Linked DNA regions of Homo sapiens: region 2 is linked to region 1. The links come from fine-mapping of genetic effects on gene expression. Tissue or cell type: gastroesophageal junction. Region 1 holds a variant in brackets; the other region holds the start of a gene. All regions are shown on one strand. Distances are between the middles of the regions.

Evidence for each region. PIP is the estimated chance that this variant, and not a neighbour inherited with it, causes the effect.
Region 2: it holds the start of MIER2, and the variant in region 1 is fine-mapped to the expression of MIER2 in gastroesophageal junction (GTEx, PIP 0.92).

Annotation. Positions count from the first base shown.
Region 1 is chr19:293,711-301,809 of GRCh38, reverse strand. No RefSeq gene overlaps it. Among named protein-coding and RNA genes, the nearest start is that of PLPP2, 6.4 kb to the right of the region's middle. RefSeq lists an enhancer at 6,964-7,813. The variant C/T (reference allele first, on the strand shown) is at 4,785.
Region 2 is chr19:340,450-348,548 of GRCh38, reverse strand. It overlaps MIER2 (MIER family member 2), which reads left to right and starts at 3,753. Exons shown (of 14, transcript NM_017550.3): 1 at 3,753-3,775. The coding sequence starts at 3,767. RefSeq lists silencers at 3,409-3,858, 3,929-3,978, 4,279-4,388 and enhancers at 4,697-5,648, 6,835-7,422.

The DNA.
Region 1 (8,099 bases):
TATATTGCCTTGTAGTTCCTCTGCAGTGACATTCTGCCTAGGCTTAGCTCTTACGTGGATCAAAAGGCCCTAATTCCTCCTCCTCTTTTGAAGTGCATTTTTACAGGATATACGGTTCTAAGTGGACTGTGTTTTTCTCTGCGCATGTTAAGGTGGTTCTATTCATGCTGTTTTCTACTGTTCTGATGAGGAATTTTCTCATTCTGTTTTCCTTACTGTGAAATCTCTTACTTCTGACTATATACATGATTTTCTTTTATTTTTGGACTTTGGCCGTTTGTGATGCACCTGGGTCTAGCTTTCTAAACTGAGCTACTTCGACCTGAGGGTGGGTGCATTTTAACAGATTTTGAAGTCTTGACTGTTATTTCTGCAGATATTTCTGTTTTCTTTTGCTTTCTTAGAGTTCCATTTCTGAAGGAGTATTTCTCAAATTTTTCTGATGTCCCACTCTGTCTTTTGGGTCTTTGGTACATGTGCCCTGTCCTGGGTGCTGTCCCACAGTCTCTCCAGTCACTGGTGTCACGGCCCTGGGTGTCCCACAGTCCCTCCAGTCACTGGTGTCACGGCCCTGGGTGTTGTCCCACAGTCTCTGCAGTCACTGGTGTCACGGCCCTGGGTGTCCCACAGTCTCCAGTCACTGGTGTCACGGCCATGGGTGTCCCACAGTCTCTCCAGTCACTGGTGTCACGGCCATGGGTGTCCCACAGTCTCTCCAGTCACTGGTGTCACGGCCATGGGTGTCCCACAGTCTCTCCAGTCACTGGTGTCACGGCCCTGGGTGTCCCACAGTCTCCAGTCACTGGTGTCACGGCCCTGGGTGACCCACAGTCTCTCCAGTCACTGGTGTCACGGCCATGGGTGTCCCACAGTCTCCAGTCACTGGTGTCACGGCCATGGGTGTCCCACAGTCTCTGCAGTCACTGGTGTCACGGCCCTGGGTGACCCACAGTCTCTCCAGTCACTGGTGTCACGGCCCTGGGTGACCCACAGTCTCTCCAGTCACTGGTGTCACGGCCATGGGTGTCCCACAGTCTCTCCAGTCACTGGTGTCACGGCCATGGGTGTCCCACAGTCACTGTCACTGGTGTCACGGCCATGGGTGACCCACAGTCTCTCCAGTCACTGGTGTCACGGCCATGGGTGACCCACAGTCTCTCCAGTCACTGGTGTCACGGCCCTGGGTGTCCCACAGTCCCTCCAGTCACTGGTGTCACGGCCATGGGTGACCCACAGTCCCTCCAGTCACTGGTGTCACGGCCATGGGTGTCCCACAGTCTCTCCAGTCACTGGTGTCACGGCCCTGGGTGACCCACAGTCCCTCCAGTCACTGGTGTCACGGCCATGGGTGTCCCACAGTCCCTCCAGTCACTGGTGTCACGGCCCTGGGTGTCCCACAGTCTCTCCAGTCACTGGTGTCACGGCCCTGGGTGACCCACAGTCCCTCCAGTCACTGGTGTCACGGCCATGGGTGTCCCACAGTCTCTCCAGTCACTGGTGTCACGGCCATGGGTGTCCCACAGTCCCTCCAGTCACTGGTGTCACGGCCATGGGTGACCCACAGTCCCTCCAGTCACTGGTGTCACGGCCATGGGTGTCCCACAGTCCCTCCAGTCACTGGTGTCACGGCCCTGGGTGTTGTCCCACAGTCTCCAGTCACTGGTGTCACGGCCCTGGGTGTTGTCCCACAGTCTCTGCAGTCACTGGTGTCACGGCCCTGGGTGTCCCACAGCCTCCAGTCACTGGTGTCACGGCCATGGGTGTCCCACAGTCTCTCCAGTCACTGGTGTCCCGGCCATGGGTGTCCCACAGTCTCTCCAGTCACTGGTGTCACGGCCATGGGTGTCCCACAGTCTCTCCAGTCACTGGTGTCACGGCCATGGGTGTCCCACAGTCACTGTCACTGGTGTCACGGCCATGGGTGACCCACAGTCTCTCCAGTCACTGATGTCACGGCCATGGGTGACCCACAGTCTCTCCAGTCACTGGTGTCACGGCCCTGGGTGTCCCACAGTCACTGTCACTGGTGTCACGGCCATGGGTGACCCACAGTCTCTCCAGTCACTGATGTCACGGCCATGGGTGACCCACAGTCTCTCCAGTCACTGGTGTCACGGCCATGGGTGTCCCACAGTCTCTCCAGTCACTGGTGTCACGGCCCTGGGTGTCCCACAGTCTCCAGTCACTGGTGTCACGGCCATGGGTGTCCCACAGTCACTGTCACTGGTGTCACGGCCATGGGTGACCCACAGTCTCTCCAGTCACTGGTGTCACGGCCATGGGTGACCCACAGTCTCTCCAGTCACTGGTGTCACGGCCATGGGTGTCCCACAGTCCCTCCAGTCACTGGTGTCACGGCCATGGGTGACCCACAGTCCCTCCAGTCACTGGTGTCACGGCCATGGGTGTCCCACAGTCTCTCCAGTCACTGGTGTCACGGCCCTGGGTGACCCACAGTCCCTCCAGTCACTGGTGTCACGGCCATGGGTGTCCCACAGTCTCTCCAGTCACTGGTGTCACGGCCCTGGGTGACCCACAGTCCCTCCAGTCACTGGTGTCACGGCCATGGGTGTCCCACAGTCCCTCCAGTCACTGGTGTCACGGCCATGGGTGTCCCACAGTCCCTCCAGTCACTGGTGTCACGGCCCTGGGTGACCCACAGTCCCTCCAGTCACTGGTGTCACGGCCCTGGGTGTCCCACAGTCCCTCCAGTCACTGGTGTCACGGCCCTGGGTGACCCACAGTCCCTCCAGTCACTGGTGTCACGGCCATGGGTGTCCCACAGTCCCTCCAGTCACTGGTGTCACGGCCATGGGTGTCCCACAGTCACTGTCACTGGTGTCACGGCCATGGGTGACCCACAGTCTCTCCAGTCACTGGTGTCACGGCCCTGGGTGTCCCACAGTCCCTCCAGTCACTGGTGTCACGGCCCTGGGTGACCCACAGTCACTGTCACTGGTGTCACGGCCATGGGTGTCCCACAGTCCCTCCAGTCACTGGTGTCACGGCCATGGGTGTCCCACAGTCACTGTCACTGGTGTCACGGCCATGGGTGACCCACAGTCTCTCCAGTCACTGGTGTCACGGCCATGGGTGACCCACAGTCCCTCCAGTCACTGGTGTCACTGCCATGGGTGTCCCACAGTCCCTCCAGTCACTGGTGTCACGGCCCTGGGTGACCCACAGTCTCTCCAGTCACTGGTGTCACGGCCCTGGGTGTCCCACAGTCTCGCCAGTCACTGGTGTCACGGCCATGGGTGTCCCACAGTCCCTCCAGTCACTGGTGTCACGGCCATGGGTGTCCCACAGTCCCTCCAGTCACTGGTGTCACGGCCCTGGGTGTCCCACAGTCTCGCCAGTCACTGGTGTCACGACCATGGGTGACCCACAGTCCCTCCAGTCACTGGTGTCACGGCCATGGGTGTCCCACAGTCTCTCCAGTCACTGGTGTCATGGCCATGGGTGACCCACAGTCTCTCCAGTCACTAATGTTACAACCCTCGGTGTTGCCTCACAGCTCTCTCTTTTATTTTTCTCTCTCTCTGTGCTTCTGTTTGAATAATTTCTTTTTTTTTTTTTTTTTTTTGGGAGACGGAGTCTTGCTCTGTCACCCAGGCTGGAGTGCAGTGGCATGATGTCGATGATGTCGGCTCACTGCAACCTCCATCTCCTGGGTTCAAGCGATTCTCCTGCCTCAGCCTTCCCAGTAGCTGGGATTATAGGTGTGCGCCACCACACCCGGCTAATTTTTGTTTTATTTTTAGTAGACACGGGGTTTCACCATATTGGCCAGGCTGGTCTTGAATTCCTGACCTCGTGAGCCACCTGCCTCGGCCTCCCAAAGTACTGGGATTACAGGCGTGAGCCAGTGTGCCCGGCCTCTGAATAATTTCTATCGACATGTCTTTGATGCTACCAATCCTCTTTTCTGATATTCCAGATTTCTATTTAGTCTGTTTCACAAAATTTTTATTTCCCATATTGTATATTTTAATAGGTGCTCTTATGTGTTTTTAATTTTTCTGCTGAAATTCTCCATTTTCTCACCTTGCCCCTATCTTTTCTTCTGTAATCTTTAACCTTTTAATAATAGTTACTTTAAATCATTGTCATCCTATTGCTTTGCTTTTTTTTTTTTTTTTTTTTTTTTGAGACGAGGTCTCGCTCTATCGCCCAGGCTGGAGTGCAGCGGCGTGAACTCGGCGCACAGCAACTGCCACTTCCCAGGTTCAAGTGATATTGTCCTGCCTCAGCCTCCCGAGTAGCTGGGACTACAGGCACCCACCACCATGCCCGGCTAGTTTTTGTATTTTTAGTAGAGACGAGGTTTCACCATGTTTGCCAGGATGGTCTTGAACTCCTGACCTCAGGTGATCCACCCGCCTCGGCCTCCCAAAGTGCTGGGATTACAGGCGTGAGCCACTGAGCCCAGCCCTTTTTTTCCTTTTCTTTTTCTTTTTTTTTTTGAGACGGCGTCTCGCTTTGTTGCCCAGGCTGGAGTGCAGTGGTGTGATCTCAGTTCACTGCAACCCCTGCCTCCCAGGTTTAAGTGATTCTCCTGCCTCAGCCTCCGGAGTAGCTGGGATTACAGGCGCACACCACCACACCGCACACGCTGCCACGCCCGGCTAATTTTTGTATTCTTAGTAGAGACGGGCTTTCACCATGTTGGCCAGGCTGGTCTCAAACTCTTGACCTTGTGATCTGCCCTCCTCGGCCTCCCAAAGTGCTGGGATGACAGGCGTGAGCCGCTGTGCCCAGCCCGAAAGTTATACTCTTAAGAC[C/T]CAGTCCGGGGATGCCAGGGCCTCCAGAAACAGGAATCAGGAGTCACCATCCACATTATGATGTTTCGGTGCTTCTATTTCTCTGCTGCCCGAACTGACCTTCTTCTCAGGGGCAGCGCCCTTTGTGGCGACTGAGATGGCACCAGAAGCTCCAGGCACACAACCTTACATCTGTGATTTCTGTGGGAAGCCTGTATCTTGCCCAACTGTTCTAACAAAACTCCTGGGTAAAATTTGTTCTTGGGTCTCGTGCCCATAACTGAATCAGGAACTGCCGAGCAGAAGGGGTTTCCTGGTTGGCCAGGCCAGGGTCCCTTGTTCCCCTTCGGTAGCAGGGCAGGCCCCATGGAGAAGGAATAGTAAGAGGGAGGAGCACATGGGCAGGCCGGGCGCAGCCACCCAGAGGCATGAGCGTCCCATTTGTGTGGGGTGAGCACAGAGGTCAGGAGGGCAGTGCAGGAACAACTTCCCTCTTAGGCCAAGAAATCTGAAACTGGGAAGGCAGTGGGGAGCCTTAGTGTGTTTTTTAGCTGAAGTAGAGTCACGCTTTAGGGAGATTGGATTTGACTGGAATATCTAAGATAGGTTGGAGCTGGGAGAGACCCTGGGATGCCATTGTTGACTAATATTCTGTTCTTGTCCATGGTGTCTTGTGTTTCTGAGGGTGCACTAGATGTGGGTAAGACAGTTAAGGAGCAGAGGGGATACTGTTTTGCCTCAGGAAGGGCTTGCCCCTCTCCTGTCAGCAGCTGGGTTGATGTGCTGGTCTCGAGGAGCTGGGCTGGCCTGCTCACCGCTTGTGTAGCGTAGCTTTGCCTCTGGGTTAGCTGTGGGGTGGTGGAATCCTGCCCTTCCTGCAGCCCAGACCCAGGCAGGAGGACCTGGAGGGCCCGCTGTGCCTTGGGGCTCTTCCGGATTTGTCTGACACCAGGCTCCTAGGACTAATGAGGCCTCCACCAGACTTGGTCTTGACTAACCTCAGGGGAGCTCATACCTCTCTAGAACAAACTTACTGTCCTCAGCTTTTCGGCAGCCATAAATAAAAGTCATTTGTGTTCGTTTATTTAATGCTTTCCTTTTACAGTGAAGTGAAGGTCTTTGATGACCTCCTTCCTACCTGCTAACCAAATATGGAAATCTGTTCTGGACAGAGTCCATGGCCGTGCCAGGAAGCAGGCGTTAGCCAGGGGCCTGCCTGGAGATCAGCCCTCCTGAGACAATTTCTGTGGGGGTGGAAGTGGGGGAGGGAGAAAGTCGCTCAGAACTGATGGTCCTGGACCGGCCACGGTCCCCAGAGCCTCAGCCTCCCAGGCCCAGGCTTTGTTGAAGATGTCCGGGCCCTGGACTGGCGCTGTCTGGGCCCCCACTGACCTGACCCAGCTGTTTCTCTCTCCCTGATGGTCCTTGTTTTCTCGGTTTGTAGTTCCTGGGTAGGATGGCCAGATAAAATACAGGATGCCCAGTTGGGCTCGGATTACAGATAAACGAATGTGTAAGTATGTCCCATGCAGTATTCGGGACACATACTGAAAACCGGTTTGTTGCTCTTCTGGGATTCAAATGTAACGGGGTGTCCTGTTTGTTTCACAGGTATCAGGACTCAGCTAGGGGGTCCTTGATGTTTATTTGCCCCATTGCTGGGCTGTTCTCAGGAGGATGTTGAGACCCTGGCGTGGAGCGCCTCCTCGGCGTGTCCAGCAGAGGGCGGCCGTGCCTCCCGGAGGCATCGCGGGGCCCAGAGCGCAGCCCAGCCCCGTCCCCTGGTCCTGTGGCTCGAGGTCGGGGAGGGAGGGGCGGTGGTCGCTGCGGGGCAAATGTTTCCACTCACCCGGAGCCACGACCCACGGCCTGTGCAGGGAGAGTCGAAAGCGCGGCCCCCGGTGAGCACTTGGGAGGTGAACCGGTTCCCCGCCCTGGTGGGCTGTCACCAGTCACATCAAGAGATGCAGGACGGCGGTGGCCTCACCAGAGGCATTACGAGTTCTCTGGAGCCCCTCCGCCACCACCGTCCTTGTTCTTCCTTGAGTCGGAACCAGGTCCTTGGGGTCTGTGGGTGCTCAGTGGCTTTGCAGACCTGCAAAGATTTGAGGTCTTCCAGGTGCCTCTCCTTGCCTTCACCAGATGCTGGTTTCGGGGGCAGGGATAGGGCTGCCAGGCATCAGGAAGGTTTGTGAACGGGGATTTAATCGAGTGTTTCGCGGGGTGGCCCCTGCCATCTCTGCCCCTCGTTTTGTACGAGAAGCAGGCGGAAACCAGCTCTCCCTTTGAGAACGCACTGTTGCCCTCCGCTGTTGCTTGTGTGTCTTGCCTTGCTGTGACCCAGGGAGAGCTCCCTGCAGCTGTCAGCTCCCTGGTGACCTCAGGCTCTGGGCATCCCAGTAAGCACGGCTTGCGCACCCACTGTGTGCCAGCTCCCACTTTCCTGGAGCTCGTGGGAGGAGACGGGGACAGTGAACGAACGCACAGACTGAGATGGTGGGAGGGGCTGTGCGTTCCGGGTTGTCTGCACGAGGGGCTCTGGCAGGGGGGCCGCGTCCCGGCTTGTCTGCGCGAGGGGCTCTGGCGACCACGTCCAGCACTACTGCTGTGTGTTTTTCTTTGCTGTGACCCAGTGAAGACCTCCTCACAGACAGAGCACAGCAGACTCGCGGTGCTGAAACCCGGAGGGTTACCCTGTCCCTGACTGACTGTAAGGTTACACTAAATTAAGAGGCACTCCAAGGATTGCAAAGTCCGAGGGGAATTTTGAATTCGTGGGTCCTGGATTGTGAATTTGAAGGCAGCGGTTTCCAACCCTTTTAAATCTTGACCCCAGGAAGAAGTACCTTCTACATCTTGACCCAGCAAACACGTGATACCTACCCACACTGTATTTTGTTCAATTAACCCTCAAATGATGTTTCCTAATGTTTGGCCCTGGGTCAAGCATTTCACAAACTATTTAATCTTCTCTACAATCCCAGGTGGTAGCTACTGTCTTGCCGCCTTTATGCAGACAGAGACTGAGGGATACCTTAGATGTCTTTCCAAACCATCCACCCCCTCAGCCTTCCCTGCCCACTGCCTGCACGTCAAACCCACTGACGGGCACTCGTTCGACTCCAAGAGCCCCGTGCCAGGAACCTGGGAGACAACTCCCGTTTTGACTCTGGGCAAGGTACTTCACCTCTCAAGTCCCAGAGAAGCAGAGAAAGCAACGGCAGGTATAGTGGCTGGCTGCACTTAGGTGGCACCTACTGTGTGCCAGGCCCCCTTCTGCCCACTTCACAGGTGTCTTAGTCTCCATAGAGTCCATTTGGAAACAGGCCCGGAGCC
Region 2 (8,099 bases), 47 kb before region 1:
CCCCTCAGAGGGATACTTGACCCTGAGCAGAGGGGGAAGTTAGTGCTTGTGTAGGGGAGGGTTTGATGATGCACCCAGCATCCACCACAGGCCACCCCATGCACTACTCACAGCTCCTCCAGTATCTTGTGAGGCCTCTTTTTTCTAGGGAAAATTTGCAAGAACGACACTGCTTGGGTGAACTACAGCGTCCCCTGCCTCCCCGCCTCGGGGCTGCAATGGATTCATCACCCCCAGCTCCACCACGCAGTCTCCATCTGCTCCAAGAGGTGTAGCGATGCGGTGACCTGGACCCTCATCCCGGGACACCATGCCTCTGTCAAACTTGGGAGCTGCCCGGTGACCATGAAAACCAGGCAGAGAAGAAACAGGGAGCCTGGAGTGGAGGCACATGCAGGCGTATCTCCTCCAACGTGAGGTGTCCACTCAAACCACTGTGCCACGGCCAGGGGCACCCTCTCCAGCCTCTCCCCTTAAGCTCCCTGCTCAAGATTCGCTGCTCTTTATTTTCTGAGTTTTACTTCATTTTATGCTCATGGAATAATTGCAAGAATGAGTATAGTAGAAACCCTCCGTACTGGCCGGGTGCTATGGCTCACGCCTGTAATCCCAGCACTTTGGGAGGGTGAGGTGGGTGGATCACGAGGTCAACAGATCGAGACCATCCTGGCCAACATGGTGAAACCCCATCTCTACTAAAAATACAAAAATTAGCCAGGTGCGGCACATGCCTGCAGTCCCAGCTACTCCAGAGGCTGAGCCAGGAGAATGGCGTGAACCCGGGAGGTGGGGCTTGCAGTGAGCCAAGATTGTGCCACTGCACTCCAGCCTGGGCAACAGAGCGAGAATCCATCTCAAAAAAAAAAAAAAAAAAAAAAAGATTTACACAGGTTTATCTTTTCTGGCATTAACTTTTTTTTGTTGTTGTCGCTGTGGTTTTTTTTTTTTTTTTGAGACGGAGTCTTGCTCTGTCGCCCAGGCTGGAATGCAATGGTGCCATCTCGGCTCACTGCAGCCTCCACCTCCCGGTTTCAAGCGATTCTCTTGCCTCAGCCTCCCGAGTAGTTGGGACTACAGGTGTGCACCACCACGCCCGGCTAATTTTTTGTATTATTTTAGTAGAGATCAGGTTTCACCATGCTAGCTAGGCTGGTCTTGAACTCCTGACCTCGTGATCTTCCTGCTTCAGCCTCCCAAAGTGCTGGGATTACAGGTGTGAGCCACAGCGCCTGGCCTGTTTTGTTTTGAGATGGAGTTTTGCTCTTGTCGCCCAGGCTGGAGTGTAGTGGCGCAATCTCAGCTCACTGCAACCTCCGCCTCTCGGGTTCAAGTGATTCTCCTGCCTCAGCCTCCTGAGCAGCTGGGATTACAGGCACCCGCCACCACGCCCCATTGTGGCATTAACATTTCTGAAGAATACAGTCCCTCTTTTGTTTAACAGAATATTCCTTATTTGGGTTTGTCTGAAATTTCCTCATATGTAGATATGGGTTGTGCATTGCTGGCTGGATTCAGTGATGCCGTGTCCTGCTTTGGACACCACATCCAGGTGCACATGGTGTGCACCTGCCCTTTACCAGGGATGCTGAGTTTTATCACCCACCCAACAAGTGGCTTCATTTCTCCACTGCGACTAACAGTCTACGGAGACAGACTTTCAGACCTTAAAATATCCTTCACTCTTTTTTTTTTTTTTTTTTGAGACAGGTCTCACTCTGTTGCCCAGGCTGGGGTGCAGTGGCACAATCACTGCTTACCGCAGCCTCGACCTCCTGGGCTCAAGAGATCCTCCCACTTCGGCCTCCAGAGTAGCTGGGACTACAGGCACATTATCGTCATGCCCTCTAATGTTTAAAGTTTTTTTTTTTTTTTTTTGAAACAGTGTCTCACTCTGTTTCCCAGGCTGGAGTGCAGTGATCTTAGCTCACTGCAACCTCTGCCTTCCCAGGTTCAAGTGATTCTCTTGCCTTAGCCTCCACAGAATAGCTGGGATTATGGGCACTCGCCACCACGCCCGGATAATTTTTGTATTTTTAGTAGAGACAGGGTTTCACCCTGTTGCCCAGGCTGGTCTCAAACTCCTGACCTCAAGTGATCCTCCTGCCTCTGCCTCCCCAAGTGTTAGGATTAGAGGTGTGAGTCACCGTTCCAAGCCACAATACCCTTCTCTTCACCCAAGTCCTCATTTGACATCTATGTGATGATTCTTGCCAAGCCCTCTCCTAAGAGTCTTCCCTCGTTTTGCCAGGTGGACTCAAGCCCTTGTCTTCGGGCCCCTCCACCTGTTACAGCACAGCACCTCACTCTCTTATCTGTTCATGCTTCTCCCTGCTTCACAGGACCTCTGGCTACCCAGCACCCAGTTGAGGACTGCATAAGATATGTGTTTAGTTCACTGAATGACTGAATGAATAATAACAAATGAATAATAAAGGAAGGAACCAACTCTTGCACAAATCAGTGAGGACTCTTCAACACGAGGGCCAGAACCCTCAATCTCAATGATGTAAACCAAAAAAGGAGTGAGGGTAGACCCCTCCAGAGTGGTTCTTCTATCTCTTGGTTGGTGAATTCTCAGAGGACTGAGTAATGATTTTGCATCAGGAATCAAGGCTGATGCATGTCAAGTTCTCACTATTCATTGGCTGATCACTGGGAAACAGGAATGAGACTCATTCTCTTCTTCCTGGTCCCCAATTCCCTTCCTCCTGGTCCCCAATTCCCTTCTTCCTGGTCTCCAGTTCTCTTCTTCCTGGTCTCAGTAGGAACCGCCCTCCACTCATTTGCGCAAGCCAGACATCTGGAGGCCATCCTTCACTCTCTCCAGCTTCCCTCCATCAGCGAGTCTTGTGGTGTCCACCTTCTCAAGTCTCTCTGCACTCTGGTCCAGGCCCCACAGCTCCCACCTGGCCCCTGCCTCTTCACGCCCCACCCCTGCTTCCTATCCTCTCTCTGCATCGTGCGCCCCGAAGATTCACGGCACTTATCCGTCTCAAATTTAAGGTGTGGCGAGTCCTTGCCTTCCCATCCTCCACTCTAAACGCCCTGAAGACAGGCGTTAGGGCTGTCTCCTTCAAACCCTCAGGATCAGAACGTGCACGTGTTCCAGAAATGTTCAATCTGCGAAACGACGGACTGCAGAACCAAATGGCCCTGGGGTCAAGCCCACCTCCCTGCCTCCCGCCTTGGGCTCTCCGGCGCGGGGCCACCGTTTCTAAAACCTCTCCGACTGGTGCGCGTTCGCAAGCTCCCCGATTGGTTCCTCCGCGCGCTAGTTTGCTCATCACGGGTGCGAAAGTGCAGAAAATTCCAGAACCACGCAGCCCGGACACCAATTCTGGCTCTATCACTGACACTCTGGGTGGCCCGTCGCCCTGGGCCTCAGTTTCCTAGTCTGCCACGCGGGGTATTAACAGCGAGCAGCCGAGGGAATGAAGAGGTCACACAGGACCACGTGGTCCCCACGCAGGTGTGATTATCAGGAATTCGTATTTTTATGGAATGCAGTCTCCTCCGCCAAGGCCAAGGCCAAGATCAGGGTCCAGCAGAGACGGCCGGAAAGACACCGCAAGCTCGCCAGAAGCCGCCGGCCACGCTCGGCTGCGCGCCCGCGCCCGCGCCCGCGCACCTACTACGCGCCCGGCCCGCTCTCCGCCCCCTCCAGGCTCCGCCCCCTGCCCCGCCCTCCAGGCTCCACAGCCAATGAGTGCGCGGCCCCTCATCCGGGGATCCCGGCGCGGCCACCGCCTCCCGCGCACACACGGCCATGGCGGAGGTGAGTGAGCGGGCCGGGGGAGCCGGCCCCCCGCCCCCGCGCGTCCGCGCCCCCCGCCGCCGTGGCTCGGCCTCGTCGTGGGCCCCAGGGACGGAGAGCCCCGCTCTGGAGCTCTGAGGCCGGCCGGGGCGCCTGGCCCGTCCGGGGCCGGAGGGGCGCGGGGCTCCATCGGCGGCCGCCCCCGGCCGGCCCCCACCCCCCAACTCCCCCGGCTGCCACATCGCGGGCTGCAGTGCGCATGCGCGGCGGCGCGGGGCGGGCGGGGGCCGGGGTGGGGGAGGGGAGGGACGCGGGGCGGGGCTGGTGTCGGGGGTCCGGTGGGCGCGCGGCTCCGTTCCAGGGTCCGGCTCCGGTTCCCGGCCCCGGCCCGGGCCCCGCGGCGCGCAGGCCTCCCCTCCCGCGCCTTTGCCAACTTTGCCGAGTGCTGGGGCCGCCAGGCGCCCCGCGCTCCCCATCGGGATCCCGGTGGACCCACCGCGCCTCCGCCGCCCGCGAGCCCCCCGGCGGGGCTGGGTCAGACCCCGGGCGGGATTTGAACTCCCGACGCGGACCCGCCTGGCGCGAACTGGGCGCAGGGTGGGTGGGTCTGCCGGGGCCTAGAGAGCGTCGGGGCTGATCTCAGAAGAGTTGGACCAGCCTCTCCCGGGCACGAAGTTACTTCTGGAGCCTCCTCCCTCGTCCAGGAAACAAGCCCGGGACCCTTTATCTGAAATGTTTGGGACCAGCTATATTTTGGAATCCAGAATTTTTCCAATTTGAGGATCTGTGGGATTTTGGACTGTGATGTTTGATCAAACCCACCTAGGACTGTCTAGGATAAGACAACAGATAGCTTCGTGTCAGGTCAAACCAGGAAGGAAGAAACTTTCGCTTTTGAAGCTTTTTTTGATTTTGGAGTGGTGGATGAGCCTGTGTGGACTTGCTTTCACCTTGGAGGGCCCTGGTGAAGATGGAAAGAGATAATGTAGGTGAAGGTGCGGCGGCTGCGAGGTGCTCAGTCAGTGGGACTCAGTGCATGACTTCTGTGCGCAGAAGTTACGACAGGCGGGCAGACTCAAGAGCTGATCCTATCTCTGGGATAGAGCCCAAAGGAAAAGGTGCCCACCCAGCCAGGCACAGCCGCCTCGTGGGAAGCCGGGATTGGAACTGCGGCCTGGCCGTGGTGCCACGTTGCGTGTTTATGTCTTGGGCGTTGTGGGAGGCAGGACTGGCCATTCTCTCCCCCTGGTGACGACCTCAGGGGCAGTAACAGGCCCTGTGTTTATGCCAAAGACGGTGTAGGTGTCTCGATACTAGGCCAGACCACCGGCCAGTTCCTTCATCGAGAATTAGTTCTTCTTGAGACGCTTAGGGAGACTGAGTCCCCATGCAGATGGTGGCTGTCCTCCAGGGTCGGAGGCAGAAGCCGCGTCTCCCAGTGGCCCTGCAGCGACGTGGTGGTCGAATGAGTTGTGCTCCTGGAATCTGGGCAACACACGTGGCCTGACAGGTAGCTCTGTGTCTGGGATGGCACAAGTCAGACTCCCAAGCCAGCCTCCCCCAGAGCTGCCATGTGGCTGTTCTGCCCTGCTCTAGGCTGAGCTCCGTAAATGTGCACAGCAGCTTGTGGTCCGGCTGCTCCTGTTAACCCTGTTTTACACTTTGGGGTGGTGCCCTGTTGAGTGAATTTGATTTGATTTTCTAAGGAGGTCCCGCTCTGTCCTCGGCCTGAGGATCTGGGAGTGAATGGAGCAGACAGGGCCTCTCCTACAGGGATGCAGAGTCTGGTCAGAGAGAGACGTGGGTGGGTTAGGACCAACAAGTATGAGGTGCTGAGCGTGAGGAGCCATGGCAAGCTGTCTGACCACCGGACTTGTTCTGTGTGGTCTTGGGCAGGTTGCCCAGTGACTCAGAACTTCCTTTTCCTCATCTCTGAAATGGGAAGTTTAATGGTCACCCTTCAGAGCTAGGAGGTCTGATGAGGTCCTGCCACAACGGCTTGTACATGGAAGTTGAATCTTGTGAAGTTGACGATATTCCACTGTTTTTAACCCGTAAAAGTGGCAATTTGTAACTTTATAGCACGTGATCAGTACTAGCTACTTTATTCTGTATCAGTATCCCAGAATAATCATAAGCACCACAGTGGCAGACGGGAATGCTTCATACTTTTCTCAGGCATACTAGATTGATCTTTTAAAAACCTAAGAGCACCATCTTTTGCTCCTACCTAAAACCCTCCATGGCTTTTCATGGTCCCTGGGATAAAATGCTCCTCCTTGCTGAGTCCCACAGCCCTGTGAGGTGGTCCCCACGGATCTGCCCCCTACTCTAGGGCCCTGGGCTCCTGTTTGCTGGTGCACTCTACCCATTTGGGGGCTGCCAACGATGGTTCCACCTCGACTGAGGCCCCCCAGGCCTTCCCTGACCCGCAGTTGCAGAGCCCGTGCGCCCTGTTTTCTCTTCTCGGTACCATACATGTCCACTTGTTTGTTGTCTGTGTCCAAAACTAGCAACTCCATGTGGGTGGAGGCAGGTGGAACTTGTTTCTCAGGTTAACCACCACGCCACTGCCTTGCTGAGCCCAGAGTGGGCGCCCAGGGAACATTGGTCAGACGGAGGAGTGGGGTGCTGGGTAGTCCAACAAGCGCCTGGCACTTGAGTTGGTGTGGGTGGGAGGAGGGTCAAGCATGGCTCTTAGGAGGAGGTTGTTTCAGTCACACTGGGGAGAGGGCTTGGGGCATGGGAGAGGTAGGTGCAGCCATCTTGGCGAATGGAACCTGCCACCCTGTCATTTTGGGTTAAGCTTTGCAGGGTGGCCTCTTGTGTTTTTGGTGCACTCTATACCTGTGGGGGCTGCCCTGGGGGAAGGGCTGGTCTGTGCTCTGCACCCAGTCCTCTGGTGCAGTCTTTATGTTGAGTAGCTGGCTGCCGCTTCTACTGCCTGAAGACCCTGGTGGACGCCTGGGTCTGTGGCCTGTTGTCCTCTGGACCTTGTTTCTAGAATGCTGTTTACGCTTCCTTTGCTTTTTTTGTTGCCTGGAATACCGTTGGCCTGCTCCCCCTCTTTTTCCTGCTTCCACTTTGACAAAACAGAGGACTTTGTCTTTCCTGGGAGTGAACTCAGAGGGAAACATGCAGAGTGTTCTGAGTGAGTGAAGTAGAGTCCCTGGGAACCTGCTTTGAGAGTAGACTTGCACCTGGACACCAGGCAGGGGCAGCGGGAGGAAGAAGATCCATGAAGTCTGTATTCCGTGGTAAGTTCCAGGAACTCAGAGTCGCCTGGAAATGAACTTGGGGATCCCAGGCTGCTCAGGGCCTCCCTGTTAGCGGCCCTTTCTGCCGTTCCCAGCCGCTTCCCTCTTTGCCCCCCTCTGCCTTAGCTCTCCTGTTAAATGGCACGTCATATAAGGGCCAGATCCTCCTCAGACCCTGCAGACCACCTCTCCTGGGGCCATATGTTAACTCCCTGTTACTCGGTGTGGATCTCAAGCCTGCGGGACTGTTGTCAACTTGCCGTCCAGACTGGGGCCTCATTTGATGTGGTCGCCTGCCATCCCCTTGTTAGTCAGGCTCCTGGTTGCGGGAGTAGAAAGCCAGCCCCTGACTGAGGCAGGAACCGTTGCCCAGAGAACCTGTCCTCGACCCCTACCCAGAGGGTCCTAGAGGGGGCTGAGGGTGATTTCAGAGGTCACTTAGGATGCTTTCCCTGTGGCTTCACACCGCGTGTGGCTGTGTAGAGTGGTTGTGGGCTGGTGGCCACCTGCTGTGTCCTGGAAAGAGGTGAGGCCATCTCTGCCAGACCCAGGCCAACCCCAGGGCAGGAGGCGTGAGATGCCCCTGCAGCTGCCATGCACTCTGTGCTGCTTGCTTCCAGTCCCGTGGCCCCTTCCCCCTGGGGGCCCTGCTGGCTCTTCCTTCCCTCTGTCTTCTGTTTGCCCTCTGCCACCACGGAGCTAAACTTTCTAAAGCTGGATGGGTCCTGTCAGTCTCCACTTAGAGCTTGAGGTGCTCCTTGGTCCTTGGCAGCCTTGTTGCCAGAGTCACTCCAGGGCCAGTGGCTGCCCCAGCTCCCTTCCGTGGCTTTGCTGTACGTTGCTGTACAGTTGGCCCTTGAACCTCACGGGTTTGAACTGCATGGGTCACTTATACATGGATTTCCTTCCATCTCTGCCACCCCGAGACAGGAAGACCAACCCCTCCTCTTCCTCCTCAGCCTACTCAACGTGAAGATGATGAGGACGAAGACCTTTAGGATGATCCACTTCCACTTAATGAATAGTAAATACACTTTCTCTTTCTTACAATTTTCTTAATAACTTTTTCTGTAGTTTACTTTTTTTGT